Homo sapiens: one gene and its partner. The protein of the gene in region 2 interacts with the protein of the main gene of each other region in a pairwise test. Each region holds a gene or a part of one and is shown on either strand. Other genes may lie near its edges.

Region 1 (3,407 bases), 5.6 Mb from region 2:
GTGCTTAGGACCATTCCAGTCCATAGAGCGAGGCTGGAGGGTGGAGGAAGAGCATTGGGCCCGTGTCTTTAGCCCCAGGTGACAGGAAGGAATGCTGCCCATGACATCTGTAACCACTGGAATAGCGCCTTAGGGATGGTACTAGATGACTTAACATGTGTGTATATTTTTTGAGACAGAGTCTTGCTCTGTCGCCCAGGCTGGAGTGCAGTGGTGTGATCATGGCTCACTGCAGCCTCAAAGGCCTGGGCTTAAATGATCCTTCCATCTCAGCCTCCCAGGTAGCTGGGACCACAGTTGCGTGCCACCACGCACAACCAAACTTTTTTGTAGTTTTTATAGAGACGGGGTTTCACCATGTTGCCCAGGCTGGTCTTGAATCCCTGACCTCAAGTGATCTGCCCATCTTGGCCTCCCAAAGTGCTGGGATTACAGGTGTGAGCCACCTCGCCCAGCCATATTTGTGTATATTCTACGACATAACTGTCACAAAACACCTGGAGCCCACTCCCCGTGGCGGCTTCACTCGTGTGTTCCTCTTCTACCACTAGCACCACCCCTTCCTGGAGCAAACCACGATTTGCATTTGTCTATTACTCTGTCTCATCAAACAAAAGCTGCTTCATCGCATACCCCTATGTCTATGCAAGCACTACTTCATTTGCTTGCCTGTGCGTTTCATGTGAATGGCACCCCTGCAGAGTCTCCTGGAACCTGCTCTTTTTACTCAGCTTTCTCCTCCTAACATTTATCCATATTAACAGCAGCTGTTTTGGTTTCACAATACATTTATTTAGAAAAGCAACATACAGTAATAGGTATTTCAGAGAATTCAGCAAAGTATAAAGACAAATACAAAAGATGCTTGGGATACAACCGCTAGCTTCTGCCTTCCACACACAGTGGATTTTACTGTAACTGACTAGAGTTACTCTGGTGCCACTAAGTTCCGAGCCAAGTCTACGGCCACCACTGGAAGCTGTGGCTATTTCTGTGGACTGACGTTACACTGGGCTTCATTGTTCTTTCATTTAACAAATGTGACAGGGACCGGGCTGGGGACACACGGGGAACGACAGTGGGTCTCTGCCCATGGGAACTCACAATCTAACAGCGAGACGAGGCACAAACGGCTAGCACAGGATAGCATAACAAGTGCCACCCAAGGTACAGGCTCAGGGTGCTACGGGGACCTGCAAGAAGGCCACCTGAGCTTCGGGTAGCTGGGAAGGCTTCCTGGAGGAGGTGAGGCCCAAGGTGGGGGTGAGCCTGGGCCAGGCAAAAGGCAGGCCTCTCGGCGCCCATCTGTGGTTCCTCAACACCCTGTGTGTGCAGGCCCCTCAGCTGACCTGTCTTCTGTGAAATTCTTGATCCCGCTCTGTTCTATTCACACTGTGCTGCTTTGCCTTGGTGGTTAGCATGGTTAGCTTTCACAAGCACAAGCTCACACTCGAAAACTAGGCTGCTGTCTCCTGGGAGTTTCTTTTTTTTTTTTTTTTTTTTTGAGACAGAGTCTCTGTTGCCTAGGCTGGAGTGCAGTGGTGTGATCTTGGTTCACTGCAACACCTCCTGGGTTCAAGTGATTCTCCTGCCTCAGCCTCCCGAGTAGCTGAGATTGAGATCACAGGCGTCCACCACACCTGACTAATTTTTGTATTTTTAGTAGAGACGGGGTTTCACCATGTTGGCCAGGCTGGTCTCGAACTCCTGACCTCAAGTCATCTGCCCGCCTTGGCCACCCAAAGTGCTGAGATTACAGGGGTGAGCCACTGCGCCCTGACTTGGAGGTTCTCTTACATTTGGTATTTTTTCATGACACCTATGACTATGCTTTGGAGAGAGTGGCTGCCCCCACGACCCTGGCTGGGACCAAGACCATCAGCACTTCTCCATCACCAGGCTGAGCCAGGATGAGGTGGGTGGTCGCAGTAGGTGAAAAGGGGCCAAAGATACTCAAATGAAAGCCACAGAAGCCACACCCATGAGGCTGCTGCCTGGGCAGAAGGCCCAGAATACCCTCCTAAATGGAAAAACGCAAAGCACACAGCGATCATGTCAAGGGCAGTCATGTGAAAGAAAGAAACAAACAAACAAGTATCTTGCCACAACCCCAAACTACAGACAACAGGGCGCATTCCCCTCATGAACTCCCTAGGGACCTGCGGGCCCCAGGGCTGCTGTCGCTCAGTCAAAGGTGATCCGGAAGCTGCGCTCCTGCTCCTTGCGCCGGCCCTCGCACACCTTGGTCACCTCCTCCACCTTCCTCTGCAGCAGGGCCGAGTTCTGGTCGATCCACTGCAGTGAGTCCATGTGCGCATTGAGGATCTTGCAGATCTGCTGCAGTGGGTCACTGGTGTCGGCGGGGGCCCCGGACGTGTTCAGGTGCTCGATGATGTCCTTGAGATCCTGGGCCATGCGCTTGAGCTGTGCATCGATGTTCTCAGCCAGCTTGTAGGTTTTCTCACGCTCCTCATCCGCGTGCTGCAGGTAGATGGTCCCGCTCTGCTCCTTGACCAACTCCTCCAGTGGGCTCAGCAGGTCTTCCAGCTCCTTCTGCTGGGACAGGATGAAGTCGAGCTCCTGGTCCAGCCTCTTCTGGTCCAGCTTCACCTTCTCCACCTCGCGGTGCAGGCTGGTGATCTTTTCTCCATTCTCGATCAGCGTGCGGTCCCAGGCGTTGACCTGGGTGGCCTGCTGGAGGAAGTGCCGCTCCTGGTCCTCTAGCTCCAGGCTCCATTTGTTGATCAGGCTCTCCAGCTGCGCGTAGGTCATGGCGGAGCTGGCAGCCGCCCCTGCAGCTGCGCCAGGGCCAGGTGGAGCGGTCACGGCAGCTGCTGTATTGCTGGGGATCCCGGCTGGCGCCAGTGGTTTTAAATTCAAGGCAAAGCCGGTGGTGCTGCTGCTGCTGGTGGTGGTGGCGGTGGCGGTGGCAGCGGTGGATGTTGTTGTGGAGGTGCCGGAAGCTGCTCCAGGTGCCTTTAAGCTGAAGCCCTGTGTCCCAGCAGTGGGGGCGCCCGCTGTGGTCACAGGGGTACAGAGGGAGAGTCCAGTGGTGGCAGATGAGGTTGGAGCAGTTGCTATTGACGCAAAGAGGCTGGGCCCAGTGCTGGTGATGGTGGCTGTGGGTGTGGGAGCAGCTGGCTGTGTGGCACCTGCTGTGGTGGCTGCTGGCGTGGCCGGAGTGAAGGGCAACGTGGCAGGTGCCGTGGGCTGGGCTGAATTCCCTGCTGAGCCAATGTTGAAACCGGAGGGTTGGGCCGTGCTTCCACCAGTGAATGAGAAGCCTCCAGATGTGGTAGCTGGAGCCACAGAGGTGGTGGAGGGGCCAAACACAAAGCCGGTGGGTGCTGTGCCCTGGCTGGAGGTGACGGTGCTCGATATGGCATTAGTGAGGTTGCTGCTGCCCA
Region 2 (3,817 bases):
AAGCAGAAGCTTCTCTGAGTGGGAATCCCAGATCTGCCAGTTAGTTGTTGCTGTGTGATCTTGAGCAAGTTACCCAACCTCTCTGTGCCTCAGCTTCTTTATCAGTAAAATGGGCATAACACACACCACCCTAGACTTATTATGTGATTTCAATGTGGTTATATGTGCAAAAACACCCAGCACAGGGCTGGGGCTTAGGAAGCACTCAATCAATGTTAGTGCCCATGTTAGTTACTGTTCCCCTCCAGGAAGCCCTCCTGGAGTCAACAGATAGCTAGGGCCTCCTTACCAGTGCAGGTGACCCCAACATCCTCATTGTGAGCGCAGTTGTGCTTTCCCCAGGGAGCAGCAGGGCAGTCGGACAGTGAAGCCTCGGTCCCCACACAGCCCACATCATCTAGCCAGATGGGGCCCGCACCCCAGCCAAAGCGGCCAGCAGCAGGGTCTGGCTGCTGAGGTCCACCACAGCCCAGCTCCCGGCAGACCACAGCTGAATCCCGCATGTCCCAGCTATCGTCACACACGGTCCCCCAGCGCTGGTCATGCCACACCTCCAGTCGACCTGAGCACTTGCTGGGCCCAGCCACCAGGCGCAGCTGGGGGGACCCTGGGGTAGAAGAGACCCAAAGAATTAGAGTCGGGGAAGCCGCCCAGCCTCCTGACTCTTCATCCACCTTTCCCTCCCCCCATCTTCCTTTCCACTCATCCATCTAGGCCTTCCCTCCATTCATCCATCCTTTCCTCCAGGCAGCAAGTATTTCATGAGGCCTTTTTTGTGCCATTTTCTGCATTAGGCATGAGGGATAATGAGTCAGGCAGAGTTTGGAGGATCCTCAAAAAGCTACACATCAAATTACCATATAATCTAGAAAGTCTGCTACTAGGGATATACCCAGAATAAACTGAAAACAGGTATTCACACAGATACCAGTATGTGAATGTTCATAGCAGCACCATTCACAGTAGCCAAATAGTAGTGGTTGTACAGCATTTTGAATGTATAAATACCACTTAAGTTGTATACTTAAACTGGTTAACTTTATGTTACATGAATGTCACCTCAATTAAAATAAGTCTTTTTCCATGCAGTTGTTCACCACCCTTAATTTTCTCTCATTATTATTGGTTTAATAAGGGTTTTTTTCTTCTTTCTTAGATTTTATTTTCCTAACCACTAGACCACCAGGGATAATAAGGTGTTTTGTTGTTGTTTATGAGTCAGGCACAGCCTCTGCTTTGAAAAGCTCTCGGTCTTCAGGGAAAGTAGCATGCACACACTTCATTACAGCTCAGCGAGCTAAAGGGAGTAGTGGAAGTACCCAAAGGGCAAGGCAGACACACAACGAGGAGAAGGTGAGAAAAATTCTGCCTGAGGAAGCTGGAGAAGGCTTCTCAGAGGAAGTCCTTTAAAAGACAGGGAGCAGCAGGCCCGGCACGGTGGCTCCCACCTGTTAATTCCAGCACTGTGGGAGGCCCAGGCGGGCAGATCACCTGAGGTCAGGAGTTTGAGACCAGCCTGGCCAACGTGGAGAAACTCTGTCTCTACTAAAAATACAAAAATTAGCCAGGCATGGGCCAGGTGCAGTGGCTCAGCCTGTAATCCCAGCTACTCCGGAGGCTGAGGCAGGAGAATCGCTTGAACCGGGAGGCGGAGGTTGCAGTGAGCCAAGATCGTGCCACTGCACTCCAGCCTGGGTGACAGAGCGAGACCCTGTTTAAAAAAAAAAAAAAAAAAAGACTGGTAAAAATGGTAAACTTTATGTCATGTATGTTTTATCACAATTGTTTTTTAAAGAACGTGCGCCCTGGAACAAGTGTTTTTGCTTGAATCCTGGCTCTCCCATTTCTCAGCGGTGCTGCCTCATCTGTAACATGGAGACCTATCAGTATCCACACCACAGTGGCTGTAAGCATCACCTGGACTGAGACACGGAGAGAACTGGGAACAGCATCAGTCACCAGGAGCCAGTGCATGCTCGTTCAGTGTTAGCTGATATTATTATTCAGGAAAAGGGGAACGAGACCTCTGGGAATGGTGATCATGGTGAAAATAAGTTGCTGCTTTTGTTCGGCCTTTTCCCATCTTGAGGAGACAGCTGTGTTAACCACGCCTTTTTATTTTCTGTATTTCTGATGCTTTGACATCTTGGAGCATTCCTGATCCTGAGGGACTGCCCCTCCCAGGGTTAGCTAATTCCTAGAGATGGTAAATGGCTTGAGCATGCCTTTCGTGTGCAAACCACCCTCTCCACTGGGCTCTCACACCCTGGGCCATTCTGCACCTGTCCTCATTGCCCCAGGGCCAAGTACCAGATGACTAAGGACAACCCTCTGAGTCGCCACCCTCCCCACCGGCCCCACTGAAATTCTTCAAACCAGCCAGTTCTAAGCCTGCTCAACCTGTCTCACCTATTCCTTCCTGCAAAAAACACAAGAAAGACCCCTGCACCTGGCCGGGTGGCTCACGCCTATAATCCCAGCACTTAGGGAGGCCAAGACAGGAGGATCACCTAAGGCCAGGAGTTTGAGACCAACCTGGACAATAGTGAGGCCCTGTCTCTACAAAAAAAAAAAAAAAAAAAAAATAGCCAGGCTCGGTGGCATGCAGCTGTGTTACCCAGGAGGCGGAGGTGGGAGGATCACTTGAGCCCAGCAGTTTGAGACTGCAGGGAGCTGTGATTACACCACTGCACTCCAGCCTGGGCAACCAAGTGAGACCCTGTCTCTAAATAAATGTATAAAAGATTCCTGCCATGCTTCCCCCTCACTCCGTCTACCTCCTGCCTGGCCCTGGTGCTTCCCTGTGTGGCCCCGTGTGGCACGCCATCCTCTTGAGAACCGTCAGTCACAATCTTTTTAGTGGCTGTCATCTCCTGAGATCCTGGCCTCACCATACCTCAGTAATAATAACACCTATATTTTAAAACAACAGTCCTTTCAATACTCATGAAAGAGACCAGGCACGGTGGCTCACGCCTCTAATCCCAGCACTTTGGGAGGCCGAGGCAGGCAGATGGTTTGGGATCAGGAGTTCAAGACCAGCCTAGGCAACATGGCAAACCCCATCTCTGCAAAAAAAAAAAATACAAAAAATTAGTAGTCCCAGCTACTTGGGAAGCTGAGGTGGGAGGATCACTTGAGCCTGCAGGTTGAGAGGTTGAGGCTTCAGTGAGCCATGATCACACCACTGCATTCCAGCCTGAGTGACAGAATTAAATCCACTCTCAAAAAAAAAAAAAAAAAAAAAAAAAAATATATATATATATATATGAAAGGAGGCAGGCAGAACCATTGATCACATTTGCTAAAGAACCAGAGACTCTGGAAAGTAAAGGTAATGTTTGAGCAGGGCTGTTCCTTGAAGCTGGCCTGAGTACCCCATGATGGATCCTACAGCCACACCGTGCAGCTTGGGAATAGAGCAGACTCTCAGCCCAGCATCCTTTCTCTTATCCAGGACTGGCTACAGAATTTTGGGGGCTTGGTAAATGACGAAAGTTAGGACCCCTTGTTCAAGAATTATCACACGCTCCCAGACGCAACAGCAGAGCATTGAACCCAGCTCAGTGTCCTGGGCGAGGCCCCTGTGCTCCTCTTCTCCACCTTTCTCTTTGCAAGAGGCCCCCCATGAGACAGTCTCAGAGCTGAGGGAAGGAAACAGAAGGAAGGACCCTGTTTTCTTGGGGAGCATGGAGGGACTCACCGGCTTCCGGTCCAGGCTCCCAAAGGACAGTAGGGGAGGCTGGAGGAGGTGAAACGCCTGCCGTCCCTGGAGCCTGGCTCGTCATGGTGGACGGGGGCCTGGAGGCAGCCTCCC

What was found.
Region 1: the proteins of SSC5D (region 2) and NUP62 interact in binary tests that used the Homo sapiens proteins (3 or more experiments, as listed by UniProt).

What each region holds. Positions count from the first base shown.
Region 1 is NC_000019.10:49,906,055-49,909,461, forward strand, and holds the end of NUP62 (nuclear pore glycoprotein p62), read right to left. Parts: coding exon 2,185-3,407; 3' UTR 771-2,184; downstream 1-770. UniProt on the Homo sapiens protein: Essential component of the nuclear pore complex. The N-terminal is probably involved in nucleocytoplasmic transport.
Region 2 is NC_000019.10:55,494,670-55,498,486, reverse strand, and holds part of SSC5D (soluble scavenger receptor cysteine-rich domain-containing protein SSC5D isoform 1 precursor), read right to left. Parts: coding exon 3,704-3,817; intron 608-3,703; coding exon 290-607; intron 1-289.